2 separate regions of the Homo sapiens genome follow, and region 2 is linked to region 1. Evidence: fine-mapped expression QTL. Tissue or cell type: skeletal muscle. Region 1 holds a variant in brackets; the other region holds the start of a gene. All regions are shown on one strand. Distances are from middle to middle. Region 1 overlaps ATP8A1 (ATPase phospholipid transporting 8A1). Region 2 holds the start of ATP8A1 (ATPase phospholipid transporting 8A1).

Region 1 (15,994 bases):
AAAACTGGAAAGAGAAAAGGTGACATTTTAAACAACATGTTTTACTATGAAAAGGCCATTTCTGATGAAATAATAATTTTAAACGAATAGCTTCAGTCAAAATAACTAGTAGCAATTTTTATAGGTTAAAATTCTAATTATGATAGCAAGAATATGTAAACTTACACAAAAATTAGAAACAACCAATGTATATTTTAGCTCCCACAACATCACTAACAGAGAGCATCTGATTGGTGTTACCAAGGGCTTTCTTTAGCACATAGAGGAACTATGGGGCTCAGCTGGAGGAGAAAGCCACAAAAATGATGTGAAAAAGGAAGCGACAAGCTTAAAAACATTTCAGATGCTACAAGAGTAGCAATGTTTAAAAAGAAAAATCACAAGCACAGAATAATAGATTTCTAATAGTTTAGTAAAAATTTAACACATAAAGCCAACAGAGAAAGAATTTGTACCTTTAGGTTTATATTAATGCAAAAAAACAAACAGCGACAAAAAGCAAAAACAACCCAAATTTTCTTTTTTTTTTTTTTTTTTTTGAGATGGAGTCTCACTCTGTCACCTAGGCTGGAGTGCAATGGCACAATCTTGGCTCACTGCAACCTCCGCCTCCCAGGTTCAAGCCATTCTCCTGCCTCGGTCTTCCAGGTAGCTGGGACTACAGGCATGCACCACCATGTGTGGCTAATTTTTGTATTTTTAGTAGAGACAGCATTTCATCATGTTGGCCAGGCTGGTATCGAACTCCTGACCTCAAGTGATCTGCCTGCCTCAGCCTCCCAAAGTGCTTGGATTACAGGCGTGAGCCACCGCGCCTGGCCCTAAAAATCCAAATTTTCTATATTTGGTTTTCTGAAAAGAAAAAAAAAAGGCAGAAGAAGAGGCTACTATTAAATTATGATGGGGGGTAGGTATTTCTTAGGGTTTCGCTACTGCTTCACATCAGTAGGGTTATCCAGTATAATTTTTTTTTCCTGTGATGTTGTCTGTGCTATAACACTGAGTATGCTAATAAACACCAAAAAATAAAAATAAAAATAAAAATAAAAATAAAACAGGATAAGAGAGTATGTGAGGTAGCCGGCACAGCACTTAGTACTTAGGGAGAGAAATATGTCAAGGCCCATCAACAAATTATCCAGATGTAAATTCCATGAGGGAAAAGCATTTAATATTTGTTTTAATATTATATTCCCTGGAAACAGCACAGTACCTGGCACACAGTAGCTACTCAGTAAGTATTTGCAAAATGCATAATTTATAGGTACAAAAACAGATTCAGTTTCTTTTGATGTTGGGATAGATGAAGCCTGAACCCTCTAAAGCGATCACAATAATAATCCCCAAAATGTTAAACAGCAAATTTAATATTAATTAAAAACAAAAATGTTTTGAACTCAGTGTTTCACAATATAAATTATTTAAATTAAAATATTATCTGTGTTTCTAAATTCCCTGAACACATACATTATGTCTTAGCCATTTTTTTTTTATTACTTGTACTTGCAGCACTTTTGGTATATGGGACATTCAGATGCTTATAAAACAAATTAATGAATACCTCACAGTGCATTTTGGTGAATCAACTTCATTAATTTAAAAAAATAATCATTCCAAGCTAGAGAGAGCTCAAATAAAGTATTTCCAGCACAATATCTTAACCGCAGAAGTTAAAGTACCAATTTTTACAGTGCTTAAACAGTTACGGACCAAGGATCTAAAGCACAGGCACCTTAAATTGATCACTGGATCCTGAAACACAAGACTCTAATGCCTGCAGAGCTCACCCAAACTGATCCCAGGAGTAAATCCCCTGCTCGATGTTGCTCATGGAGCAGTAGGGGTTTGGTGTTTCTGACCCGGAGTCAAAACAGCCTCCGGTAGAAAAGCAAGAGGTGCTGTCTCTGCCAGAGTCCAACAGTATGTTCCTCAAAATAAGTTGTAACAAAGCATAAAGAATAAATGAGGGCTGGGAGCAGTAGCTCACGCTTGTAATCCCAGCACTTTGGGAGGCCGAGGTGAGCGGATCACCTGAGGTCAGGCGTTCGAGACCAGCCTGGCCAACATGGTGAAACCCTGTCTCTACTAAAAAAACACCAAAAAAATTAGCCAGGCATGGTGGCGCACACCCGTAGTCCCAGCTACTTGGGAGGCTGAGACAGGAGAATGGCTTGACCCCGCGAGGGGGAGGTTGCAGTGAGCCAAGATGACGCCACTGCACTCTAGCCTGGGTGACAGAGCAAGACTCCGTCTCAAAAATAAAATAAAATAAAATTAAAATAAATAAATAAATAAATAAATGAGAGCTCCCCTTTAATTATGTAACCCAGTGGCTACAATATAATAAGAGAGATGGTAACAAAGAGAGATGGTAAAGTCCTGTTCAAATCAACTACACCCAAGATCAACTGACAGAGTGAGTGGGCTATAAGTTTGCATTAATTTAGGAAAAACTGGTCAATAGTGTCTAGAGCTCTGTATTGCCACTTATTTCCTTCGGATCCTATCTCATATTAGTAATTATCCCAATAGTAATACTTAGTTTTTTTTAAAAAAAAACTATAAGTGTCCAATATTTCTAAAATCAAGATATTTGACATGAAGATTAAGACTTCAGATTAGACAGGATGAATAAGCTCCAGAGAACACACTATCTTCCTGGAATTTGATTTGGGTCTCAAGTCTTCCAATTCACGGACAAGCTATCTTTCTGTACTTATTTACATCTTAATTTTTCTTGGATATGTTTTGTAGTTTTCTGTGAATGGGTCTTTCACTAGATTTAATTCTTGATATTTTATGTTTTTTCTTAACCTCACGAGGGTTATTTTTTATTCTATATTCCAGTCATTGGCAATATTTAGAAATGCATTAAATTTTTGTACAATGAATGACCTTGTCATCCTGTAATTTTGTTACTTCACTTATTAGTTTGGGTATGGTTTTTTTAACTTTTATTTTGTTGTTTCTGTAGCAATGCTTTTGATGCAACTTAATTTCTCTTTGTGAACAATGCTGCATTATGATTTTTTGGCAGTTTTATTATGCTCATATGCCTCCCTGTTTATCCCATTTTAAAACTCTTACAGAAAAATGCCTTTGAAACTCTGGAATAATTTTTACTACTAAAAACTTCCTGTTGATTTTATGCCTTTAGCATCTCAAAATCTGCCAATATTTTAAAAATCTTCTCCACCATCACCAATATCAGCACCCCTAGTTCAAGGAACCACCCCCTCCCAACTGGATGTCTGTATTAGCCTCAGGCTAGTTTCCTGCATTCATTCTTAATCTCTTTCAAATTCAGTTTCTACAGTGTAGCTATAAGGATTATCTATGATGATTTTACATAAATGTTATAATTACATATTATTATGTATCAGTCCATACACACAAACTTGGGTCACCCCTTGCTCAGAACTCTTCAGTTGGCTTCCCTAGGCTCAAAAAATAAATCAAAACATCTACAAGGCCTTTTATGAAGCAGCTCTTGCCTCTTTCCTGTCATCACTTCTTGTCACTCCCAACACACCCTCCTTATGCCCTCTGTAGTGAGCGCACCATGCTCTCTGCTGTCTCAAATCCTTTGCACATGTTTCCATGCCTAGAATTCTCTTTCCCTCCATCCTCACCTAGTTAACTTGTACACACACCTTGTAGATCTCAGCTTTAACAGCACTTTCTCAGGGGACATTGTGTTGACACCCAGTCCTTCCTCCTCACCCCCAAATCTAAATGAGCTCCGTGCACTTTTCCTTTAGAACACTTATCACAGCATCACAGTTTTACTGTATACTTAATTAAACAGGATTATTTAAGGGCTGTCTCTTCCCCCAGATTATAAGATCCATGACAAGAGAAACCTTCCCTATTATACTCACTGTTACCATTCCAGTGTTATCACACAGCACACACTGGTGCTCAGTAAGTACTAACTGGGTGGAATGCTGGATCCACTAATATTCTTATCTGTCATAGGATCATATAAAACCATTGCAACAGTTATAGATTTACTGAAGATACAACTCCACTACCTAGTAGGGCTCATGTTAAAAATAACATAAACATGACATTTAATAAATAGTTGTATAGGAAAATACTTTGGCAGTTTCTCAAAAAGTTAAGCACAGTTACCACAGACCCAGAAATTCTACTACTAGGTGTATACCCAAGCAAACGGAAAACATATGTTCACACAAAACTTGTATATGAATGTTCACTGAAACATTATTCATAATAGCCAAAGGGTAGAAACAACCCACATGTCTATCAACTGATGAATGGATAACAAAATGTGGTATAGCCATTAAATGGAATGTTATTCTGCCATAAAAATAATTTAAGTGTGGATACAATGACATGAATGAATCTTGGAGATATGCTAAGTGAAAGAACCCAGACACAAAGGGCCACGTATTGTATGATCCCATGTACATAAGATGCCAAGAACAGACAAATCCATGGAGACAAAAGGTAGGTTAGTGATTGCAAGGGATTCAAGGAAGAAAGAAAGACTGACTGTTTACATGTATAGGGTTTCTTTTTGGATTAATGAAAATGTTCTAGAATTAAGGTTGTGGTGATCGGTGCATAACCTTGTGAATGCACTAAACACCCCTGAACTGTATCCTTCAACATGGTGAGTTATATGGTATGTGAACTATAACTGAATTAAAAAATAGCTACAGAAAAAGATGCCAATGAACTATTTTAACATTTGCTTAAAATAGACATCTCAGTTTTATAAGTGACTAAACCAATTTTCAGTGCAAGCAGTTAGAAATGGTTATGTAACCCTCAGAGGCACTAACACAAACTGTTCTCTGGTATCAGCTCAGGGCCACTCCTTCCAGCTCTGTAATTTAATCTAGCCCTCCTCAACATGCTGTGACTTTACAGATGTTTGTTAGTTCACATGTAAAAAATAGCCCTGATCCACTTTGTTGGGTGCCATTTAACACATGGGAAGTGTCACAACAGGCTTCTCAGATCCAACAGATTATGCCAGAGAGTCTTCACTCAATAACGGATAGTGGAAGCCAGTGGCACTTACATGGAAAACCGCCTCCAAATCTGCTGCACTTCTGCCGTCCTCCTTCAAATCTGCTTGACGCCTCCATCTTCTGTACGTGCTCATTTTCCCTCAACCTTGCTCTGATCAGTTTTCTCTCCACATTCAAACTTATTTACCTCCTTTCTCCAACCGACCTTTTGCGAATCTTTGTCTCCAGCCAAACAGTGCATTCTCCTCTCCACCCAAATGTTCTCTCTCAATTCATTATTGGAGAAATACTTAGAAAAATGTGGCATACTGCCCAAATGTACACATCTAAGAAACTTTTAAATACATATTCAATGTTTTCTACCAAATGACAAAATCAATACATGTTTCCAGCAAGACAGGTATGTATACAAGGTAAAAGCTGACATTCCTCTTCTCAAGGCCAGTTTCTCACAGTAAGGAGTACTAACTGATGAATCCTCGCACACCTTTCTCTAGACAAACATGGACATTCTTGTTTTTTCTTTCCCTTTTAAAATTTCTCTGCCACTTGGTTTTCCACTCAACATGCCATAAATACTTTAATGAATAGCAGAGATATTTAACTCATTTTTGGAAAATACTCCATGGCACAGATGTGTCAATTACAACGGGTTGGATAATTAGGTGGACACACAAGACTTCACAGGATGTATTCACAGAAGACTTTACTCAAGGCAAAGGATATGGTACAGCAGGAAAATGAAAGACCAGAAAAGCATCAGAGGCCTGAGAGACTGACAGGCATGGCTCCCCAGGATCCCTTCTCTTTCACCCTCAACACGGGTGTTGAAGCTCCATGGTATGTATGTGAAATCTGAATTTCAGGAAAGCCCAGGCAAAAGTTTCCAGTGGCGTCTTTTCTACCCTCTAGTTGACTAGCCAAGGCAAACTGTGTAGCCAGTAAAACTAGTTAAGCCATCAATCTCTATATATGCTTAAACTGAGTAGAGAAGCTAGTCTTGGGTGGCTACAAGGGAGTTTCAAACCTTAAACAGCACATTATAAATCACCAGCTAGTCCGTCTCATCCTTGTCTTAGGCAGTGTTCAGCATCACACTTCCAGGTGTCCTAGAGATAGGCACAGAGCTGTCCTTGCCCTGTGTGAGACAACTCAATTTTCCACAACAGCTGCATCATAAAGCATTCAACTATTCTCCCCCTGGTGCAAATTCTGACTTCTATTTTTTTCTACTACCACAGCAATGAAATATATTCACATGATTGTACCCTGTAAGAGAGAATGCCCCAGAGAACATTGCTGACTCCGGGGCATTTGAGTTTGTAATTTTATCAGATACAACCAGATACCTAAGAATCTACAGCACTCCATACTTTTACCAGCAATGTATAAATTTCCACTGACTATAAACTGAGACAAGCACAAACTTATCCATTCCTTGAATTTTGTCAGTCTGATGAGTATTTGATATTTATTCTGAAGGCTGTAGTGGTCTGGATTAATGAAAGTATAAATTACCTTTACATCCCTACACTGGGTTGGAATCCTAACTAAATAGAGTAACGCTTCTTTGAAAATATTACAGAACCTTGCTGTTCAACACTTGCTGCATGGGCCTGCTGCATCTGCAGTGCTGGTAGGCTCCCTAGAAATGAGGACGTACTTCTACCCCATCCCCCATTTACTGTGTTCTTGAAATACAAAACCAGAATACAGAAATGAAGAAAGGAAATACACAAACTTGAGGCTAGTGTCTTCTTGGAATATAGATGAGTATACTCTGATAAAGTTAAAAATCAGCTCACAACATAAAAAAAAGTTTCCATACAAATCAAGACTTGAACACTGGCCAAGGAAACTAGTCAATCCTATAATTCATTGTTATCTTTTAGAACTGGTTCTTAAACACCCAGTCCTTAGAACAATGAAAATAAACACCACCACATGTATTATGCTGGTGACTGAATTAGCAATCTAGGTATTTTTAAATCATCAACCTCCTCTGACCCGGCACAAACCTAAGTTTAGAGAAAGCAAGAAACAATGCCCAGCCTGTGATGAGCATTTAGGGTTGTTGAGCCAAAAGTAACAGAGATGCTATTCTGATTCTACAGGTTTTTTTTTTTTTTTAATGTATTCATTTCAGTAGAGAATTAGGTAAACCTCACATTACACAGCCAAGGCCAATGTAATTTTGTACATTTAGAATGTGTTCAAGAAACCAGTCACAATGTAACTGGATTAGATTTCAACAAGGAGGTGACTGTGTTCCTCCCTACCTTCATTTAGGAAGATGACATTCCTCCAATATATGGAAAGCGTTAAGAGCCTAGAGGAGATGATTAAAGAAGCCTGGTGAAGGGGAGTAGGAATAAGTTACGACAGGATTGTCAGAATGGCTAGTGGTATGGTGCTTTGACAGCTCATTGTTTTAAATGCAAAACTCCTCTACCAGTTCCAACCAAACACACCTGTTATAGTTTTCTAACAGCTTAATTAGTCTGACAGTCCTGCCATGGGAGAGCTCAGACTAAACAATTACCTCAAATGTAACTTGTTTTTATTCAGCAGGATACAAGGTAACAGCTTTGTTGTAATAGGTTTCTTTTTTGAATGAAAACATTCTGTTAGAGAACATTCGGGATTCCTCAAAGGCCCTGGAGGAAGTGGCCAGTTTCTCAGGACCCAATCAAATAATGCACAGGTGCAGGTGCTGACTTACACTCTAACATCAGCTTCTCTGAGAGAAGCACGCCTCCCACCC[ACC/A]CCACCCCAATCAGAATGGTCTACCACTGGGGCCACTGCTGAAAGTGTCACCGGGGTGCCCTCCCCGGGCAATAATATCATTTTTTTTTTTTTGGAGACAGAGTCTCGCTTTGTCACCCAGGTTGGAGTGCAGTGGCACGATCTCGGCTCACTGTAACCTCCACCTCTCAGGTTCAAGCAATTCTCCTGCCTCAGCCTCCTGAGTAGCTGGGATTACAGGTGCGTGCCACCACACCTGGCTAATTTTTGTATTTTTAGTAGAGATGGGGTTTCGCCATGTTGGTCAGGCTGGTCTTGAACTCCTGACCTTGTGATCTGCCTGCCTTGGCCTCCCAAAGTGCTGGGATTACAGGCGTCAGCCACCGCACCCAGCCTATCATTTCTTAAGTGGGTAACAAGAGGCAAGTCATCCAAAAAGACAATGACACTACTGTTGTCATAGAGGAATAGTAAAACCACAGAAAATGTAGTGTGCTCCAATTCCTCTGAGTCAGCATTTAAGAGGAATTTTAGGTCATCAAGGACTGTAGTATAGCTGAGACTATGGCTTTGACTGGGGCAAAGAAGGAAAGCCAATATGCCAACATTAAAATATTATTTTATTCACTATATAGACTCTTACTTCCAAAGACAACTTTAAGGCAAAAGCCTCAGTGTGGCACAAACTGACATGGCACAGGAAGAGTCTCTTGTATAAGCTTGCCTATAAAGGTTACATTAAACCACCAGGGGCTTGGCTGAACCATTAGTGTCCACTGACACAAAAGACAATGGAAACTTCCTGGATTCCTCTTTCAATCATGTAATACACATAATAATACATATATTGATGTCAAATTGGTTGATACTACTTCTATCAACTCATTTATACAACCTTTAAATGAGTTGTCCTAAAAGCACGACCCCCTCACCAGCAGTGTCACTGAGAGGTTAAAACTGAAACTCTGGGGCCCCACTCCAGGCCTACAGAAACTCTAGGTGTGAGTCCCAGCAATCTGTGTTTTAACAAATGCTCCAGGGGATTCTGATGCCAAATTTGAGAACCAATGGCTTATTAAACATCAATATAAGTGGCACGATGTGATCGGAGCACAAAGACCAGCAATACCCTATTCTCGAAATGCTTTCCCTTTCTCCTGCTCACAGTCATGAGTCCCTCACTTTTTCCTCTGCTTAATTGAGAAATTCCTTGAAAGAAAAATCTCCCTCCACTGCCTCACCCATCAGTCATTCCACAACTCCTTGCGATCTGGCTTCAGTTTTCAGAGCTCCACGACTACTCTCTAGTTAAGAAAAATGAACAACGGCTACTTCTTTTAAATGCTGGATTTAGTGGGTGTCTCAGTCCTGGTCTTTTGATTTGGCAGCACTTGGTATTTGACTGGGTTTCTCTCCATTGCCAGGTCCAGTTGAATCTATCCACTGTGTGCTTTCCTTTGTCTTCTACTTGACACAACCTGTCCCCCTCCTTAATAAGAAAATCAATCTCTCTGTGCCTCTCCTTGCCACCTCTCCATACAGCTGTCAAATTCTTTCAAAAGCACAAGTGGAAGCCTATCCATACTTTTCAGAATTCCATCCAAGTTCCTCACCCTGGTTTTCAAAAGACTCCGAAAAATGACCCTAACTTGCCTCCCTGTCCCTGTCCCTCATTGTTTCATGACATGGATTCTATGCCCTGGCCAAAACAGACTATTTGCTATTTCCAGAGTACATCTCATGTCTTCCCACTTCCACAGTAACGCTCATATTAGTCCTTTCACCCTGCATCACTCACAGTTACTACCCTGATATCTGCTTACCAAAGTTCCACTCTTACTTCATGAACCCCTCAAATGGCATTTTGGAATCCCTACATCTCTCATTTGGCCCTTAATTTTTTTTTTTTTTTTACCTTGAATTATATCAGTCTGCATCTTATCTTCCCGACAAGATTATAATTTCCTGTAGGACAAGTATGATTTCTCTTTGCATTTTCTACACAGGGTCCTACACAAGAAAGATGTTCAATAAAGACTTTCTGAAGTAAAATAACAAATGTTCTAACTTTGAATCACACCCATTTTTCCCAGAAAATATGTTAATATAACTTATTTGGGTTTGGCAAAAACAGGAGAGAGAAAAATTCCCATGAAAGCAGACTACCTGGTTTAAATTTAAAAATAAAAGACAATGTGAGTGGAGTATGCACATACACGAATAAAGCACAGAGCAAAGTCATAAAGCCAGCCATAAAATCAGTCCTCTCACTTTAACCATCTTCCCAAATTTCCTCAATGGGTTTTGCTCCTTTGTGTGCAAAAAAAAAAAAAAAAGTGAAAGACAACCTGGAGCTGTCTTTCCCCACAAATATCTCCTCTCCATCCAGAGCTACTGCTGAAGACATCTAACCAGTTCAATGGTTAGATTTTAGTATTTGCATAATACTCAGATCTTTGTGACAATCTGAAAATATTATAAAGCTTATAGATGTCTGAAATTACTTAGGCCATAAATATGCTTAATTTTAAGTCCCTAGGATCACTGAAACACTACTTTCTAAAAACCATTTATAGGTAAGCCAACATACACGTGGCAGAATATATGTTCAGGTCTACCGAACAGAGCAGATGTGGGGGTACCTCCAGAGAGACAAAAAGGGAGCAACACTCTCTTTTTCAGCAGGCAAGAAAGGTGTTGCTATTTTAAGTCCCTTAGCATAATACATCTCTTTGAACAGCACTGAAATGAATTGAACCAGATGAACTCCGCCTTGTTGTTAGTAGGTCATTTCATGCTTAACAACCCGCAACACATTCAATCCACATCAACTCAACACCTTTTTCACAAAGGACTTTAAAGCTGAAATGGTTTCCAGTGGGAGATAAGCAACTATGCGCCCTGCAGGGAAGTAGTCTTGTTAGTGGCTATCAGCTGTCACTCACTCAACTCCATTCAGAAAAGGCTGATTGATGTAGCTCTGGGGAAGGAAGATAAGGTGAATATGAGTCGATTTATTATTTTTAGCTATGTGTCTAGTTTAAAAGAATTTCATGTGACCCTTTCTAAATAATCAGAAAACTGCTTTATTACTTATTCTAATGCTTAGTATCATAATAAAATAGGGTACGATATTAAACAATTTAGCCTTCATTTAACTATAGCATCAAACCAGTTGATCAATGGGCTGCTAAGGATCGCAGCTCTATCTCCCACACATTCTCATATGCAGAATGTATACAGACCATCGTCCAGGGAATACACCTGGGGCTTTAAAAAGCAAATTTACTCATTAGGAAGCATTTACAAATTTTCCCAAATACCTTAGTTTGCACCTGAACTCCATCCATCCTTTCCCAGGCCCCCATGTTGTGATTTTAGATGAAGTTGTCATTCCACTTGAAATATTGACAAGCTAGCCATCATGGCATTTCATAAAAAACGACAGCATATTTTTACCAGTTAAAATAAAAACTAGCTCAATCACCACAATAAATTCATATGGGGACTGGCTTCAATGTGCATATTAGAATAACAATTATAAATTTGTAATTTATAAATTTCTGCAAAGATATATTTGGCAGAACAACTCATCTCAGAGAAAACAATGAGAGATGGCCTCTTGTGTGTGTAGACACATGGAGGAGGCTGTGCCAAAATGTGAGTTCAAATACTGAGGGAAGAGATCAGAGGAAATGAAAGTAAGGTTAGATACAAGGAAAATGAGCGCATTCTGAACAGGGCAGTGCTTTGAGTAATGAAAGGGATCAGTAGACAAACTATTGTATTGACAGAAGGTGAAGCAAGGGTTAAATGATAATATAATGACTTTGACAGAGAAGATAAAGTGGCAAGAACTTCTGCCATATTTGGATTTTATCAGTGACTGTGAAAGTCTGGGACACAGTGTTATGAAGATACTGCTTTTCATCTTATTCGCACTCCAGATAATGAATTTTCAGGAAGGCTTCTTTTCATTTCCAGTCTTTCTTCTTCCTTTATTATGTATACTGAAGTATTTATCTGGAGAGTGGTTCATTTACTCGTTCATTTAACATGCACACAGAGAGCACCTACTAAGACAGGATCCTGGTCTGGGAGCTATTGGGAACACAAAGCTGAGTAAGAGTTGGACCTTCCCTCTGTAGTGTTCCTATCTAGTATGCACAAACCATCACACAACAAAAACACTGGAGCAAAGAGAAGCAGCCACAGTGCTCTGGGTGGAGTGGACCATAAAACTCATCAAGACTCACTCACATCCCTGGACTTCTGAGCGTCAACCTACTCTGTCTTCTCTCTGCAGCTAGGTTGTTGGAAAACAGTACACAATTTTATATTCATCAGGTCACTGAATCATCAACCAAACCAGCTTATATATCTCTGGGGCAAGGCTTGTTTCCAGAAGTGGTGTTGACAACTTTTAGGTTCTGAGTTAGGTCTCAGCTCCATAATTCGATCCCTGATTGAGTTAACTTATCAGTGAAAACAGGGCATCCAATAAGCACCAGTTTTCAGTTAAACGGTTGAAAATGTTGGAAATAAAAAGACAAGTTTATATTTCTGAAGTTGCTAAGGAATGAGAGTGTTACCCTCTGATGCCTCACATAAGGAGAGAAAATATTCATTCCTCTGTGAATATAAAAGGGTTAACATTTGATTGAGAAAAAAATGTCTCTTACATATTATGTGGACTTGACAAACACTGACAAAATGAAAATGAGTTGGATGCTTCAGATGTCCATCAAAAATTAATTACCTGTCAAAAATACTCCTCCCTCCCCACTCCTATACACCCACTTCTGCCTCAATTCAGAAAAGCAAATTGAATTTCATTCTGGCCTAATAACAGATGGCTTTCATGTTAAGCAATCTGAATTATCTGACAGCAAACAGTATCCTACTCGAACATTTTTGTTATCTCCTATCAACTGCCAAACCAAGAAGACCAATACTCAAAGGCAGCAAAGGGGAAAACAAAAATATACTATTCTCTTAGGAAACAAATTCAACTACCAACATAAAAGCCATAATTTCTTGGATATGGGACTTATAAGATCTGAAAGAAAGTACAGTCCCCCCTCAATATCCATGAGGGATTAGTTCCAGGACCTCCCATGGATACAAATCCATGGATGCTCAAGTCCCTTAAATAAACTGGTGCAGTATTTGCATATAACCTATGCATGTCCTTTCATATACTTTAAATCATCTCTACATTACTTATAAGACCTAATACAATTTAAATAGTAAATATGTAAATAGCTATGTAAATAGTTGTTATACTATATTTTTAAACTTGTATTTTTTTTTATTGTTGCATTGTTTTTCTTTTTTTTAAGATAGAGTCTCTCTCTGTCACCCAGGCTGGAGTGCAGTGGCGCGGTCTTGGCTCACTGCAACCTCCGCCTCCTGGGTTTGAGCGATTCTCCTACCTCAGCCTCCCGAATAGCTGGGATTACAGGCGCCTGCCACCACGCCCAACTAATTTTTGTATTTTTAGTAGAGATGGGGTTTTGCCATGTTGGTCAGGCTGGGCTTGAACTCCTGACCTCTGGCGATCCATCCGCCTCAGCCTCCCAAAGGGCTGGAATTACAGGCATGAGCCGCCCCGCCTGGCCTCATTTTTTTTTTTTCCTTCTATTTTTGATCTTCAATTGGTTGAATCTTAGGATGAGAAACCTACAGATATGAAGTGTATTCTGTTGACTGAAATGGCTTTTATAGCTAAGCCCTAATATTTCATTTTTGAATTGAGTTTTATATATATTTATTATAGAAGCTTTTCCTCTCACTTGCCTATTCTCATATTTAGCCATAGGGCCAATCCTGTTATCTATGAAGGGGACTCATGAACCAAGATGGATAGTCAAGAAATAAAATTTTATCTGAATGGTAGGCAAGGAATTTTTTTTTTGGAGGTAAGTACGTACCCAGAAGGGTGGAGCACCTGTGTGGTAGCCCAAAATCATCATAGCTATGGTGACCACACCTCTACTGTACTATGTCAACTTCTTGAGCCAAGGCTTGAAAATCAATAATTGCCAGTCACTGAACATAGGAGCCCTCTGCTACAAGATACATTATGGGTTGGAAAAGCATTTATGTACTTCTGTTTCAAAAGCTGTTACTGAATATTCTGAGCAATACGGCAACAAATGCAAAAACTGCATATTGCCAAAAATACCAGGCTTGAAACGTCTGGATTTTTTCCCTTTCAATTCCTGTGTTTGTCCCTTCACAACTAAACTCCTGGAGTAGCTCTGTCCCAGGCTTCTAACAGTCCCTTACTCCTGTTCATTCTGCCTTCCATCTTTAACCCACATGTTCGGCCTGTCTCGTTTTGGCTCATAAACCTTCAACAGCGACTCAATATCCACAAGAAATATTGGAATCCCCTTGGCTTAGCCTTCAAGACCCTATACAATTCAACCTCAGCCTACCTTTTAAATCATGATTTTGTTTCCCTCTGATGTGAATCTCCTTTCTGCGCCTGGCAGTCTAATAATGGTTCAGCAAAGGAGTCCTACAGTCTTATTTTCCTGAAAAACCCCTCTTCCTCCTTTCCCACTCAACCCACACATAAAAATATCTTCTCCATTCCTCTCTGTTCATCCAATGTCCTCCTAAAATTCAAGGTCTAGCTCAAGATACACCACAGTTTTCTCTCCTTACCAATTTTTATAGCACTTGACATAGAAACTATGATTTGCCACAAAAATCCGAAGATAATTGAGATCATGTAGTCCAAATCCTTCATCTTCCACACAGATCATCTCTTTGTACTTTTACATGTTTTTACATGTACCTATTTCAACAAATATGTTATAAGCTCTTTATAAGTTGTAAGTTGAAATTCCCGTCTTATACTTTCTTATATGTTCCATAATAAAATACTCTCAGTAAATATTTTGCAAATTTATTAATTAGTAAATATATCATCCTTAAATGTATTAAAAATTGGCATATAATGCCTATTGTGGGAGGTGGTGAAAAAGAAGCAGGGAATTTTGACAGGACTCCATAGAAATATCAGCAGTATAAAAATAGTCTTCCTAAATACCAGATAATGTTGGCAGACATCACTTATCCTCACCACATCAGAGAACTTCAGAGATGAGATTCTCAGATGGGGCAAATTCATTCAGAGATGAGCTAAGATGTCTGTTTCTCACATTCCTGGGCATTAAAAAAAAAAAATCTTAGAGCATGATGGCGAATTTGCTTGTATTGAAGATCATTTTGCTTTTGGCTGTATCAAAATGAGCCCCATCCAAAAAGAGCTGTGCCAAAATGCCATGCACTGTACAGAAGCAGGCCGGGTTGTATTTGTTTTATTTCTGGAGTGTCTGTCATCTGCATGTATAACTCAGTGTTTCCAAAATGCTTTTCACTCAAGTGACATCACATGTGATTATTTTCTATACATCTTTTCTAGAATAACATCTGTAGATTACAAACAAAATAAATTTATAATATTTAACACTGTCAAAACAACTGCAGACTTTATGGACTGTATTTGAGAGACTATTGCTATGAAGCACTTAAATATATTTAAAATGTTGGCTTTCAAAAGTATTATCACTATAAATCACTTTAAAGTGAGTTTAAGTGTCATCCTAACAAATGCCACAAAGCAAAAATCAATCTACCCCAAAACAAAAACTTGAGATGCACACTATTTGCAATTGAATTATATGTAATTGAAGTGTTTGTATATACTACAAGTAGGTTTGACAAATATGAGAAAAAAGCATGTAAAATTCCTACCTTGCGTTTGTTTCTTGTTCACTGCATTATCAGCTTTATGTCGTTTCTAAAGTTTAAAAGCAAAAAGAACAACTGTGAAAATGTGAATAAGATTACTAAAACAAGAGAGCACTCATACCAAAAAAGATTTAGCTTATGTTTCTCAAGGTTTTTATCATTTCTCATTCATGTCAATGTTAAAGTATACATTGATGGAGGAGTGGTGATGGGAAGAATTAGAGCACACCTAGGAATTTTAAAACTGAAAGAACAATTCCCAGTATCTCCATAGAGTGCTCCTCTTCTGAGAGCATAAGTTTGTGGTCCTCACAAGGATCTTACCTCGGCACATAGGTAGGATTAAAATTTTAATGTACTAGAAAAGTATGAAAGGTTGATTTAGTATTTTGCTTTAATAACTCACTTCAAAAAGGAGATTGCCTGAGAGAATTATCTATAATAACTACTGTTTAATAATAGTATTGAAATATTTTCAG
Region 2 (15,994 bases), 50 kb after region 1:
CTTCTCACACAGTGCCACTTCAGGTAAAACTGAACTCATCTCCATACTCATCTCCATGTTTCCTTTGGGACCTCCTTCATCGACCACAGCCTTTTGTCCCACCACCCATTTAGCTGGCACACAGCTGGTGCATAATAAGTGGTTTTTAAAGGAACAAAAACCTTAGTCATCTTTTACCTGGAATAGCGTCCTAAAATTTTTCCTTTAAGGACAGCTTAAATTACTTTTTATTCCTTTTGTTACCTTTTATGTAAATAAAACATACTATTCTACATAGTTACAAACATTTTAGAGTTGCCATTTAGAAAAACAATTCCTAAAACAACTTCTGGATACATCGTTTAGCACATATTTTACATAATCAAATAAATGTCATTATATTTTAGCATTATAGTATTCAACAGAAGAAAACACAAACCACTGGATAGGTATGTGAAGTTTTTGTGTGTGTGCATTTCTTTAGTTCTGAACAATTTAATCCTTATTATATGTAAAGTATGAGCTCCAGAGCAGTTTCTATGTTATCCAAGCAAGAGCCTTTGGCAATCTGAGAACTTCACTGTGACTGATTCTGTTGTCTGCCTGATATAGTTTGGCTGTGTCCCCACCCAAATCTCATCTTGAATTGTAAATCCCACAATTCTCACATGTCGTAGAGGAACCCAGTAGGAGGAAACTGAATCATGGGGACAGGTCTTTCCCATGCTGTTCTTGTGATAGTGAATAAGTCTCACAAGATCTGATAGTTTTATAAATGGAAGTTCCCCTGCACAAGCTCTCTCTGCCTGCTGCCATCCATGTAAGATCTGACTTGCTCCTCCTTGCCTTCTGCCATGATTGTGAGACCTCCCCAGCCATGTAAGTCCATTAAACCTCTTTCTTTTGTAAATTGCCCAGTCTCGGTACGTCTTCATCAGGAGCATGAAAACAGACTAATACAGTACATTGGTACCAGAAGAGTGGGGTGCTGCTGAAAAGATACTGAAAATGTGGAAATGACTTTGGAACTGGGTAACAGGCAGAGGTTGAAAAAAGTTTGGAGGGCCCAGAAAGCAGGAAAATGTGGGAAAGTATGGAACTCCCTAGAGACTTGTTGAATGGCTTTGACCCAAAATGCTGATAATGATACAATGAATTCCAAGCTGAGTAGTCTCGGGTATGTCTTTATCAGCAGTGTGAAAATGGACTAATGCACTGCTCAATAACCATACACCCTTTTCCGTTTGTAACACAACACTGGGTAATGTGTCCAGCTGGAAATTTCCATTTCCCAGCTTGCCCTGCAAGTGGAAACCAATGCAAAATAAGCATTAGTTTTTGTGTGGTGCTTTCTGAAAAACCTGTTTGCCTTTCACCCTTCCATTTTCTCCTGGCTAAAACTATTGTACATGATGGCTGGCACCCCAGCAACCATGCTGTGACTTTATGGAAGACAAACTCTCAGGACAGTGAAGCAGAAAGGCACAAGGAGCCAACATCCCTTATGACTTTGTGTAGCAGGCACAGCCAACCCTGTCTACCTCCACACTAGTTTTACAGGAGTGAGAAAAACTATTTTGTGTAAGCTACCATTATTTCAGTCTGTTTCCAGATTTCAAATGCTAAGTTCAAACACCCATTTGATTTATCTGGGGCAGCTAAATAAAGAGACCTAAAATTCTTAGTCTTCTGCTTTATCTACTCTTGCCTTATGGCAAATTTTTCCACTATCAGGGTTTCAACTATTGTCTCTCAAGATTCCCAAGTTTGAGGTTTCCCACATCTCACCTAAAAATTTCCAACTACCTTTAAAACATGTCCATTTGGATGTCCCCGTTACCTCAAAATTTGAATTAGTATCATCTCTTATTTTATTAGTCCTCCTTCCCAATTTCCTTGTTGTTTAATAGATTTTCTCAACCAGTCAAGCTCAAGACTGTAATGGAAATTTCCTCAAAATGTGTTTCACCAGCACCAGGGTATCTTGGGAGGCTCATTAAGAATGCGAATCCCCAAGCCCACCACAGATTTACTCAACTAAATCTTCACAAGCCAGCCCAATAAGATCCCTGATAATTTATGAACCTACTACCAATGTTATTACTAATAAAATATCAATATGCTATTACCAATAAGATCCATGGTAACTTATTAATATTAGAATTCTAAATTATTGTTGAGACTTGCTTTTTTCAAAAAAGTCCTTCTCTCTCCTGCCCTATGTTTACTAAATATTCACTAAATAGCAAAGTCCTATAATATGATTGCTATGATTTGGCTGTGTCCCCACCCAAATCTCATCTTAAATTGTTGCTCCCATAATCCCCAAGTGTTGTGGAAGAGACCTGGTGGGAGGTAACTGAATCATGGGGGCAGGTCTTTCCCGTGCTGTTCTCATGACAGTGAATAAGTCTCACGAGATCTGATAGTTTTATAAAGAGCAGTTCCCCTGCACACGCTCTTTTGCCTTTGCTCCTCCTTCACTTTCCGCCATGACTGTGAGGCCTCCCCAGCCATGTGAAACTGAGTCCATTAAACCTCTTTTTCTTTATAAATTACCCAGTCTTGGGTATGTTTTTATTAGCAGCCTAAGAGCGGACTAACACAATGACCTTTGTGACCTCATTTCCTACTATTCTTCCCCTCACCGTTCCTAATTCCCGATGTGAAACTGAGTCCATTAAACCTCTTTGTCTTTATAAATTACCCAGTCTTGGGTATGTTTTTATTAGCAGCCTAAGAGCGGACTAACACAATGACCTTTGTGACCTCATTTCCTACTATTCTTCCCCTCACCGTTCCTAATTCCCGATTCTCTCCTGCCTTGGGGCATTTGCTCTGGCTGGAACACCCTTCCCCCAGATCCCCACCAGGCCAACTCCCTTATCTCCTTCATGCCAACTTTTCAATGAGGGCTAGTCTAACTAACCTACTTAAAATTGCAATCCATCCACCCACCTTAAACATTTTGCTTTCTCTTCATTTTCCCCATTTGCCACACAACAAATTCTATAATTAGCATATTTTGTGTGTGTTTTGTCTCCTGCCTCACTAGAAAGTAAGCACCTCCAGGGCCATGCTTTTCCTCTTCTGTTAACTGATGTATCCCAAGTGCCTGTAACAGTAGTTGAAGTTCAGTAGACATCTGCTGAATGAGTTAATGATTCAGTCAGAAATCTGATTCCTCCCTTCCCATTCTCACTGTTCCACTCTAATACTAATTCTGACTTTTGTCATTTTAAGACTGTTTTGCAAAAGAGTCTATCTACCATACCTTTTCCTCCAAACCAGCCAACACACTTCCAGACTTAACTAAGTTACTACTTTTAGGATGTCCCTCCCTTATAACGATGTGGCCCCCAACTGGCCCTGTTAGATATTATATATTGGAGTTAGGCTTAAATAAGAAATTAGATTCAATGAACTCTAAGAACCTGTTCAAATATTCGGTCCTGTGTCCAAATGACTCACCTTGGCATTTAAAATGCTTTGTAATCTGGCAGTAATCTACCTATCCAAACTTTTAGCCTGCTCCTTCCAAGTTTCCCTCTGCTCCCGGCCAATTTCCTTAAGAACTCTGAAATAAGCCATGTTCACTTTCCCCATTTGTTCTTGTTATGACTGTCTTCAACACTCTCCTAACTACAGAAATAGATGTCAGTATCCTTTAGGATCCTGCTGCTCAGACTGTGATCTGCAGGCCAGCATCCTTCAGCATTACATTCTTGTCAGAAATGTAGTAACTCTGGCCCCACTCCAGACCTCCTGAATCAGACTCTGCGTTTAACAAGATCCTCAGGTGATTCCTATGAACCTTCGAGTTTGAGAAGCACTGTGTGAGGGCTCATCTCAAATCACACCTCAATGAAATGTTCACTCAGCAGGCCTTATGTTCAGTAATAAGTATGTACTAAATTCCTAATCTTCCACAGGTCCTGCGTCCCCCACAGCATGCACAATATTTAATTAACAACATCCCCTCTTAGACTATTTATTCCCTCTTTAAGTCCTTTCTCCCCAGTTTGGTTGTAAACAACTTACAGGCATGACAGTCATACATCTGGCCAATCTGGATGAAGGGAACAGAAACCCATTCAAGTCATTTCAAGGGGGGGAAAAGAGCTTATTTTAATGCTACTTGGGAACTAGGGCTATAAAATTCGGGAGGGCAGGCTCCAAGGTCTCGCCACCCTCTCTCAGGATCTGTGTCTGCCCATCCATTCCATTTTCTTTGCTATCTCTCTACTCACTCATAGTTTCTGCTTTCTTCTATCAGCAGCATTCCCATGACTTATTATGGCCACCCATTCTCTCCCATACCAGCCTATTCACCTCTGCTCCCTTCTGCTTTTACTCTAAATCTCTAACTTTAATGTTTTCAAGAGAGATATGATTAACACAGAGACTCTTTTTGAGCCAAACCACAAGGTTACAAGTGTCTGAGTCACATAAGAATTGGTTGACCCTGGGTCAGGAGCCAACCATAGTCCAATCAGCTGAGGCCAAAAAGGCTGCAGTTCAGAACAAGGCCCTCTAGGCAGCAGGGCCTCTCTCAAAGGAGAATATTCCTTAGGAAAGGTAGGACTATATTTTTTAGGAAAGAAATATTTCCTAGGAAAGAAAAGTGTGGGCAGAGCAGGCAATGAGCCACAACGCCAGCCCCACAGAGTCATTATTTGTCTTCACCACAGTCCCAAGCACATGCTGAAGCTATAATAAACTGGAATCAACTAATCTCAGGGGAAAGGGTCATTCACTCACCAAGCACCACTATGGCCCTGACACTGTGCTGGACGCACAGGGAATACAAAGATTAAACAAGCAGCAGTCCTTGTTTTCCCAGAGCTCTTAATCCAAATGTGTCACTGAACTAGTTACTTGACCTTGGGCAAATTACTAAACCATATGGGCCACAGTTTCCTCAACTATCAGATGGCACTCCACCTTCACCAACCTCCAGGAGTGTTGTAAGTTTCCATAAAGTAATCTTTGTAAAAGTACTTTGGAAAATACACAAGCCAATCAAGAACAATACTGCAGCCCTGTAATCCCCTCACATGCCACAGGTTTTGCAGTGCTCTCAGACTTTTTCTCTTCCCCTTATTTCCCACAATATAGGACCCATCAATTGCTATTATTTAAAAGAACACCACCAACTATTACCATTCTACTTTCACTATCTCTATGACTAATTTCACTCAGAAGTGTAAAAAAAATGAATTTTTACAGTGTGCATTTTAAAAGTATAATGTATTCAACTGTGTATGTAAAACTATAATGCCCTATATAAGTATTTTTTGGGTATTACAAATGACAGCATGTACCGAATTCCTATGTAGTACACAGGCCAGTTTTGAATCTTGCTTCGTCTTCTCCCCACAGCAGTTTCATTTAATATTTCCTAAATACTGCAATCAGAAAATTTCAGGGACCCTATTTTTACAGGGAGCCCCTAAGGAGAAAAAATGGCCTGTCTCCATCCCTGAAATCCAATTCTCCTAACTTATATATTTTTCTAAAACCACTTCACCACCTGTCTCACATTAAAAGATGGAGGTGGGGAGGAAGAGTGGGAATCAGCGATGATGGCAAGATAGATTTCTGAAAAACATGTTATTCCACCCTCTGCAGGATTCAAGTACAGGTTTATGGGAGAGGACAAACAAACCTTGGGATATTTACAGTCTTGGCTTTGACGCGAGCAAAATCAAATAATATTTACAGAGTGCCTGCCACATGGCAGGCAGGATGTTGAGGGCTCCTCGGAGACGATGAAGAGTCTGGGCCCTCGGAAAGCTTACTTGCTTCTACCCCGGAGCATCTGTTGCTCAGTGTTGACAACCATGGCCATTCAAGAGCTGGCCCCAGGTGGAGCAAAGAAAACAGCTTCCACCTGGCTGAAAAGTCAGCTCAGCTGGCCGAAGTGAGGGTTTCGGGCAAAAGGGAAACACAAAAACGAAACCTCAGACGCGAGCCGGTGGGACTCCGCTGCAGGAGGCAGAATTGCAGAAGCTGTAATGCAGGGAACCCACTCGGCACCCGACCCCGATGAAGGCTCCCCGCGCTTCGAGAGCCAAGGGACTACGGATCAAAGGATCCTGCAGCCGGGGAAAAGCAAACTCGCTTCGCTGGGAGCTCAGATAGGGGGTTGCAAAACGGTGGGCGCCGGAGGCAGGGGCGGCGGGCTGGGGATCTGCTGAGTGGAAATCGAACTGGTGGGGAGGGAGGTGGGCAGGGCGAGTGAGCTCAGTGACTGGGACCTAATGGTCACACTGCGGTGCAAAGCACGCCTCGGGGCTCCCGCGGAGAACACCCATTCGAGGGTACTGGAGCCTGGAAAGGGTCTGCGAGTACACTGGGGGCAGCGCGGGGGGAAGGGTCCCCTAGGGGCCGGGCGCGACAGTCGGACTGCCGCCGGGGAAGAGGTAGGATGCGGTCTCTTCCAGGATAAACACACACGCTCACACACACACTCGCTTCCCGACCCCGGGCTAGCCCCGAGCCTCGGCGGCCCCTTACCTTCGGCGCGCGAGCGGATCTCCGACACGGTCCTCCGCATGGTGGGCATCGCGGCGGCGGCTGCAGGTGGGTCCTCAGCCCGGACTCTGCACCTGTCACGGCGTGGTACACGCGGGAGACCCGGCTGCGCCGCGCAGAGCGCTCAGCTGCAGCCTGGGCCGCGCCGCCGCCCACCTAGGGCAGAGCTGCCGCCGGGCGCGGCCCCCGCACGCCGACAGGAGGAGGAGAAAGGCAGCGGTGGCGGCGAAGGTGGCGGCGCCCGCAGAGCTGGGCGAGCTCTTGCTGCAGCCGCGGAGGGGCGGCTCGGCGAGGGGCGGAGCTCGGGCGCCGGCGCCGGGGGAGGGGCCTGCGGGGCTCGCGCTCCCCCTCCCGCGGCCGCTCAGCAAGGAAGGCGGGTGAGGGGCGGGGAGAGCCAGGGGGAGCCTCCTTCGCCCCGCCCCGCCCCGCTTCGGACCGTATCACGACTCAAAGGGGGGATCAACTCTTAGCCTCCTTAGTCCTCCAGCGTTTTCGCTCCGCCCTGTGGAGTTGGTTGACCCGGTTCCTCCTCCAGGCCACTCGGACTCTCTCACATCTTGCTCAGAAAGGAAAGACTGCTCTGGCTGCTGCATTCTCACGAATCCCCTCCCGCTACCCCTGGCTTTTGATCGCAGTGGAGCCGCCCGTCGTCCGGAAAGAGCTGTTGGGTCTGAGCCGGCAGGCGAAGGCGAAAGGGTCTGGGACTACAAGGTTTAGCTCCCAGCCAGAGCAGGAAAGGAACGACTGACTGTTCGCCATCTGGGTGTAATTCTAACCTCTCTGCACGCCCAGCCCGACTCGTGGCCTGAGCCGCACTTGTCCTCCTGCCTCGCCCACTAGCAACAGGCTGCCAGGTCGGGAGGCCCCTGGTGCCCATGGTGCTCTTGTCCATGGGGCTTGGGTGCATCTGGGCCCCGCCTGCAAGTGGGCCCGGTGCATCTCCCTAGTTCAGGCTCTGCAGCCTGACAAGGCACTGAAATAGCAATTAAGCCAACTAAGTATTGGCCCAGGTGGTTCACAAAAGACTTTTTTTTTTTCTTTTAGTTAAATCTGCATAAAGTTGGATGCAGTCGTTTTATCTGCAAAGGGGAGAGGAGTCTTTGTATAAAATCCATAAATATGTTAAATTTTAATTTGCCGATGTCCTTCAGACTATCATAGCCTCATTACCTTTTATTTTGTATACCGAGATCTATGCTAAAAAGTTGTCAAAACAAATACTTCACCTTCAAGTTAAGATGTAAGGTTTTGTGCTGTTTCTGGCGAGCTGCTGAACTGGCAGGAAAGGAATAAACCAGAAACAATAAATCAGAAGCAATTTGCTTCTTCCCTCATTTCATGCTCTTCCTCCAGCAACCAGCGAAAGAGATCCTCACATAGAGGCCTTTTATTTGAGATCTTTTCACATCCTGAAGGGAGAGAGCTGGAGAGGTTTGACCTGAGAGAGAAGTGATTATTTCCAAGCCTCAGGAAAAAATGAAATAAAATCTGCTAATAGCGTCCTATCTCCATTTGTGGTATTTCTTCTGCTTCCTGCAGGTAGCACTTGCTAATCAGAGCCCTGCCCTACATTAATACTCAGGCAGTCAATGCATATTTATGAAGAGCCCACTCTAGTTGGCTCTGATTCAGAGGCTGGAATTAGAACAAAGAAAATGTATTCTCAGTGTTCATGGAACATCTCAGGGTAAAGCAGGACTCAACAATAAATGAATCTATCTGTTTCAGTGATAGTCATGATTTAAAGTATGGTCTTCTAAACGTAAAAAATGAACACAGCTTTATCTGGACTGTCATCACTGGGCATTTTTATTTCTTCCAAGGCCCAGGGTCTCCTTGTATAAAGCAGGCTTGCTCTGGCTTAATGAACATGAGTCTGAAACAAAATTAAAGGGCTAACATAGCAAGGAAAATAGTAAAAATAATAATCAGCTTTAAAAGTTAGCGAACAGAAACTGGAGGAAATGCAGTGCTTTTCTGATTAACATTTTAGGTGTAATTCTATATGAAGCCATAACCAGTTCTTATTAAAAATCAGTGCGCAGCAGCATGACGATAGTTCATTTATGAGCAATCACCTTTGTAATTCCTAATTAGTCCTCAGATGGGGTTGAGGTTCAATTCTGCTTATTTACAAGTAATAACTGAAGGAACTCCAGAAGTTACCTCTGTTTTGTATAGAGCAATCCATTTTTTACATGTGTGTCCCATTAACTCATCAGCAAAGTTGAAAACGTCATTGATACAGGAAACAAGTCACTTATACAGAGAAGAATATTGCATGATATAGTCTATAGATTACCGTGTGTCCTTTCCCTGATATTATCACTTTATCCATAATGGCAAGCGTATCCCAACTACCTTATTTCTTAAAAACCACTCATTCCTGACTGCTAGAAATCACACATTTTTATTGGTTCAGAACTTGATTGAAGTTGAGGATTGCATTAATCTGCATCTGCTTGATTTTAAGGCTCTCAGATCGTCTCACCTTCTATTGTGTGAGAAGTGCAATGTGCCAGCCCCTGGCAGGGAACTCCGGTTCCAGCCACATGACTTTGTCACGGAATCTGTAGTAGAATTCAGATGTCAGCAAGATCATTTAAAATCTTTCAGGTCATATGACTATACTGCTGATAGACTTAGAAGGAAGAGGGTTATTTAAGGACAACTTCCCTAAGATCCAGGTTTTATCCTCCACAAAATGTACATTGAATACGTAACACGTGTGAGGTGCTGAGCCAGAGAACTAGGTTATAGAGGCACTTAATGAAAGCTAAACAGCAGTAGCAACAAGATGGCTAATATGTCATGCCAAATAGACAAGCAGCAACTATGGACTTTGAGAGAAAGCTAAGTTTCTAAGAGCTAGGGTGATCAACATTGTTGAGCTAGATCTTAAAGTAGGGGTTAATTCTATAGAAATAAAAAGGAGACCTCTTTCTAGTGGGAATGCTTGGTAGTCATTGTTTAATGAATGTTTAAGGTCAGTGGAGTGATAGAGGAGCATATATATTTGGCAGGAACAAAGAGACTGACTTGACTACAGTAAAGGTTTTTCACTGGGAATCCATGTATGGAGACTAAAGGTGCCAGATTTGGGAGAGTCTGCAATGTCATCTTAGGATACTTTTGTTTCCTAATGAGCCTTCTAAATGAATGATGCTAGGAATCCCAATATGCCCACTTTTAAGCGTTTGTGGGTTTTTTTTTGACATTTTTCCCTTGAATTTTGCCACAAATTTTCCTCAACTTTACTAAGTAAATTATGTTCTAATATAATGAACATTGAGTGGCAGATGTTCATTACATTCCCAATAACTGTGCCATGTAGGACTAAATGGGAAAACATGTCCTTAGCTTTCTCTTTGAATTAGGATGGCTGTTTTAAGTCATTAGAGAAAATAAAGTATGTGTAAATACGTCTACTCTGTTCTACTGTCACAGCAGGGTGTGGACATCAATGGAACTTCATTGGCCTACAGACTCAGGTTTAAACTTCATTCAAATCAGAGGTGACTGTCAGGTACCCAGAGTTGGGTAAATGATAGTTGAAATTACAAAGGAAAAAAATACAATAAAAGAACTAAGAGGATGTCACTACTGGAACTAAACAGATTGGAAATCAAGTTTTCATGCCAAGAAAATTAAATAGGAGAAAGAATAGTCTTTTCAACAAAGGATGTTGGGACAACTGGATATCCACATGCCAAAGAAAAAAGTTGGACCCCTGCCTTGTATCATACACAAAAACTAACTCAAAATGGATCAAACACCCAAAATGTAAAAGTTAAATTATCTATAAAACTCTTCAGAGAAAAATAGTAAATATTTATTAACTTAGATAATAGTTTCTTACATATGGCATCAAAAGCACAAACAACAAAAGAAAAAATAGATAAATTGCACATCATCAAATTAAAAACTTTTGTCTGGGCACAGTGGCTCATGCCTGTAATCCCAGCACTTTGGAGGCCCAGGTGGGTGGATCACTTGAGGTCAGGAGTTCGAGACCAGCCTGGCCAACATGGTGAAACCCCATCTCTACTAAAAATACAAAAATTAGCTGGGCGTGGTGGTGGGTGCCTGTAATCCCAGCTACCTGGGAGGCTGAGGCAGGAGAATCGCTTGAACCCAGGAAGCAGAGGTTGTAGTGAGCTGAAATCGTGCCACTGCACTCCAGTCTGGGTGACAGAGCGAGACTTTGTCTCAAAAACAAACAAACAAACAAAAAAACAAAACCAAACTTTTGTGCTTCCAAATACATCATTAAGAAATTGTAAAATAACCCACAGAATGGGAGAAAACTTTTGTAAACCATATAGCTGATTAGCGACTTGTACCTAGATTATATTAAAAACGATTATGAGGCTTGGTGACATGGCTCTTGCCTGTAATCCCAGCAATTTGGGAGGCCAAGTAAGGAGGATCATTTAATCCCAAAAGTTCTAAACCAGCCTGAGCAATGTTGAGACCTTGTCTCTACAAATAATTAAAACATTAGCCAGGCGTGATGGTGCACGCCTATGGCCCCAGCTATTTGGAGGCTGAGGTGGGAGAATCACTTGGGCTGGGGTGGTCGAGGCTGCAGGGAGCTAAGCCATGATCACGCCACTGCACTCCAGCTTGGGAGACAAAGCAGGAACCCATCTCAAGAAAAAAAAAGAACTATTATGATTCACTAATAAAAAGACAACCCAATTTAAAAATGAGCAATGAGCAGAGGATCTGGATAGTTATTTCTCCAAAGCAGATATGCAAATGGCCTATAAACTCATAAAAAGATGCTCAATGTCATTAGCTATTAGGGAAGCGCAAATCAAAAACCTGAGATACCACTTCATACTCAGTAGAATGGCTATGATCAAAAAGATAGATAATTTTGTGTTGGAGAGAATGTAGAGAAGTTGTAGCACTCATATACTGCTGGTGGAATGTAAATGGTGAAGTTGCTTTAGAAAATAGTCTGGCAATTCATTAAATGTTAAACATGGAGTTACCATATGGTCTAGCAATTACACTTTTAGGTATACACCTAAGAGAAAAGTAGATGTCCACACAGAAATTTATACACAAATGTTACATTATTCATAATAGCCAAAAAGGGGAAATAATGCAAATGTCCCTCAAGTGATAAATAAAATGTGGTATATTCATACCATGGTATATTCTGCAATAAAAAGTAATAAAATAACACATGCTATAACATGGATGACTTTGAAAACATGCTAAGTGAAAGAACCAGTTACAAAAGCTCACATATTGTATGATTCCAATTATATGACATGTCCAGAATAGGCAAATCTACACAAACAAAAAGATTAATGGTTGCTGAGGGATGGGGGGTGGAATGGGAGCACTGGGAGATGACAGCTGATGCAGAGTTTCTTTTTAGGGTAATAAAAAATATTGTGATGGATGCACAATTCTGTAAATATACTAATGGATTATATTAAGGTGAATTGTATGTTATGTGAATTATATCTTAATAAAGCTGTTAAAAATTTTTTAAAATTAAATCTCCAAAGGCATCAGCCAAAAAATGACCAAGTCCAGAAAATCCAAAAGAGATATCAGAGGATATTCCTATCTTGGGAGGAATTGCACTTATTAATTACTTGATATTACCTGGTTTGTCATTGTCTGGGACCCCCAAAATTATGAATTGGTCCCCTTTGGGAGAAACTTATAGTCAAGTAGGTGAGAAAAGCTTGCTCACTAATTTGTTAACTCACAATGCAGCTGGAGGTGCTTTGGAAACTCATGTCCTGGGGGTTGTTGGAGACATGGCTGAGAACCCTGCTTGTGATTGAGATTGAGGCATGGAAAGTGGATTACCACACAACCATACAATACATACACTAAGCAGTGCTGGCCACTATACTTCCAATTCTTTTGCAGAAGCACTAAAGAAACGGGTAAATTAATCTTAAGTTTTACATAATTAACATCTTTTAGTTTAACATTTAGGTTGAGATGTAAAATTCTATCTAATAGCAAAGCTGCCTGGTTATTCCAAGTGAAGATTAGGCTTTGGTATCTATAATCATGGGTGTTATATATTAATTTAATGCATAGTGTATGGTTAAAGTATCATTATACTGTTAGACTTGTAAGGGACTTTCTTTGCCCCAGCCTTCTTCATTTTGATTGCTTACTTTGTGTCACCACCTTTATATGCACAACCCTCCAATACACGAGCGAGATGTTTAGGCTCTGTTCCCAGAATGTACCTTCATTCTATGCACATTACTTTATCTCTACCTCTACCACCTGTGTACAAGTCACCATCATCGCTTGCCTGCCATACTTTCTAACTGGTCGCCCTGCTTCTATGCCTGTCTTCCATTCGTCTCACGGGAGCCACCATTATTATTATTGCTTTAAAACACAAACTGGTTCATGTTATTTCTTAAGACTCTTTGGTAGCTTCCCATGGCACTCAGGAAGAAAACCAAATCTTTATGATCCTGCCCTTGCTTGTTTCTCAGACTCAGCTTCTCTAGCCCCTCATTCGTCCACAGGGCTCAGATGATTCCAGCCTACTCCAGCTAATATTGCCCCACTATCCCCAATGCTAGACACTGCCACATTGCCTTATTCTATTTTTCTCATAGTACTTATCACTATGTGGAGTTTTCTTATTTGTTTGTTTACCTGTTTATGATAAATAGTTCTCGCTGCGTTTGTCTTGCTAATTGCAATTTGTTCAACCTTAACAACAGTGTCTGTCATACAGTCCAGGATTCATACATAGTTGTTGAATGAATGAATGTAAATGAACTGGATCCCTCAGATTGGAAACTGGAAATGAGTAGAAGGATAGGTAGTGTTCCATCTGAAGAGATAATAAGTTATGTCCTTCATAAGTATGTTTATTGGGGTATATTATTTTGTGAGAATTATTTGCATGAAATAATTTAGAACATATTTGCTTTGGAGTATTTGATATCAGCAAAACCTTGTGCCACAAAAATTAATGTCAAAATTAAGTGATCAAATTTTAAATATAAACCAATTTCAACCAAAAGTTCTAAATTTGCTGTCATTGAATAATTTAGTCACTTATTCTTACTCATAATGATAAAATCAATACTTTTCCCTCACAACTATGATTCATTTCTCATACCTGTAGTACTACTGTCTTTTCAAACACCTTAGCAAGGTCTTAATACAAAGTTATAGTGTCTTTAATGTTATTATCTTCTGCATATACTGGGTATTTCCAACAAAAAAGTACAACAATGTTTTCTTCAATATAATTGAAAATATTCTGCTCCTGTTTAAATGAAACTAGAGTTTCAAAATGCAGTTTTGTATTATATGAAAGAACTCTTGAAAGAAATTTTTAAAGAATTAGTATCTCCAGGATATTTAAAATCAGGTTCAACTCACACACAATCTTTTGGGAAAAACACTTATTGAGTATTTTATTCAAAAAGTAAATGCACATTCAAAGGGAAATGATCTGCTGTATCATAATATCTAGTGTTGGATCTTACATTCAATAGCGTTATTTCAAACAGATGAAAAGAGATTAATTAAATTATTTTTTTTTTACTTTAAAAGTTTCCTGCATATCAGAGCCAAGATGTGAAAAATTCATACTTAATTAGAAGTGCTGCTTCTTTTCCAAAGGTTACCAAACAGCATTTCAATAATGCTGGTTTCTATACAAAGTATTATTATAAAATAGTCCCTGAACTTGTGTATAAGACAATCAACATAATATTGTCATACATTTAGACATTTTTAAAAGCAGCTTTATTGAGGTAGAATTGATATACAATAAACTTCATGTGTCTAACATGTAGAATTTAAGTTCTGATACATATATATAACTGTGAAGCCATCACTACATTCAAGATAAGAAACATATCCATTCCTTCCAAAAGTTTCCTCTTGACCCATGGAATGGTTCTTATCTGTAACTAGATAAGCTTTTTCATCAGCATTCAGCACAACTTATTGAGTGCCCACCATGTTTTAGATAATGAGCAGGATATTGGAAATTGAGTGGTCAGCTGAAACAGACAGGATCCAGACTGTTATAGAATGTATGTTGCATCAGGAAGACAAATACTAATCAAATTATTATGTGAATAAATATAAAATTACCACGGTATATTGTACTCTGGGCAAGCTAGGCTGTATCTGTATATAATGATTGTATCCCCAAATATTTCTGGGCCTCCACACCTATATCAGAAACCCTTTAATGTTGCTTATAGGGCTTTTGCAATGTATCTAAAAATTTACACTAAACATTTTGTTTCTACTGCATGTTATGTCTTTTATTTTGAAAACAGTATGGTATGATGTTTGATGTATGAAAAGGATAACCAGTGGAGAAAAATATTATTATATAATTTATTTTCTTGATGTTGACCAGAAAGTCAATATTGAAAAAGAAAAAGGGAAGGAAAAAAACCTCCCAAGAAAATCTTGCTTTTTTTTCTCACCATGTCACATTAGGTGTTATTTCAAGGAGACAAAGTCACAATAATGAGGTAAAAAATATTGACGGGGGAAAGTCCAGAATTTTTATTAAAAATCAAGCATAGGCTGGGCGCAGTGGCTCATGCCTGTAATCCCAGCACTTTTGGAGGCCGAGGCAGGCAGATCACGAGGTCAGGAGATCGAGACCATCCTGGCCAACATGATGAAACCCCATCTCTACTAAAAATACAAAAATTAGCTGGGCATGGTGGTATGCACCTACAGTCCCAACTACTTGGGAAGTTGAGGCAGGAGAATCGCTTGAACCCAGGAGGCAGAGGTTGCAGTGAGCCAAGATTGTGCCATTGCACTCCAGCCTGGCGACAGAGTGAGACTCTGTGTCAAAAAATAAAAAATAAATACAAAATTTAAAAAGCATAGTAAATGAAATAAAGACGATTATCAAGTACAATTTTGTAATTCCATAATTCCATGACTTTTAATTTAGAAAGAATGCCAGGCTTAAGTAAGATCATTTTCTGATGAAATAAGCTATAGCTTTCAAATATAAAATATTTGCCAATTGTGTTTGAGCCTCTTAGATGATATGGCCCCTGTTCAGCGGTTCATAATTCACTTTAGTGTTTAGTAGATTTATTGGAAAATCACAACTTTTTTTTCTCTGACCCCAAAAATCTCAGAAACAACATCTGCTGTAAAGAGGGATTGTTTATCACTGTAGCTTCTTGCCAACTTTGAACTGTGAGGAAATCCACCAAATGGAGAAAGAGAATGAATACTTAATTCAGGATTACATTTAGGTATTTGTCCCAGAGAGCAGAAGCTGGGGTCAGGGGCAGACACTTTAAGGAAAAGATATAAAGGAACTAAATGGAGGTTTGTGTAAGCTGGAGACACTGAAGGTATGAGCACAGGTGAACTCGTGCCGGGTGTGGGAGCAGAGTCTACACCTCTTGTATAGATCTGCTTGTCTGTGCCAGACTGCAAATGGCAGCTTTTTTCTCCCTGCCCGTATCCT

What was found. PIP is the estimated chance that this variant, and not a neighbour inherited with it, causes the effect.
Region 2: ATP8A1 starts here. The variant in region 1 is fine-mapped to the expression of ATP8A1 in skeletal muscle (GTEx, PIP 0.91).

The regions. Positions count from the first base shown.
Region 1 is chr4:42,600,515-42,616,508 of GRCh38, forward strand. It overlaps ATP8A1 (ATPase phospholipid transporting 8A1), which reads right to left. Exons shown (of 37, transcript NM_006095.2): 5 at 15,519-15,564; 6 at 1-4. Among named protein-coding and RNA genes, the nearest start is that of ATP8A1, 49 kb to the right of the region's middle. RefSeq lists an enhancer at 10,322-10,866. The variant ACC/A (reference allele first, on the strand shown) is at 7,768.
Region 2 is chr4:42,650,327-42,666,320 of GRCh38, forward strand. It overlaps ATP8A1 (ATPase phospholipid transporting 8A1), which reads right to left and starts at 6,779. Exons shown (of 37, transcript NM_006095.2): 1 at 6,499-6,779. The coding sequence starts at 6,547. ATP8A1-DT (ATP8A1 divergent transcript) reads left to right here and starts at 7,197. Exons shown (of 1, transcript NR_186688.1): 1 at 7,197-8,021. RefSeq lists enhancers at 5,966-6,015, 7,006-7,215 and a silencer at 6,506-6,975.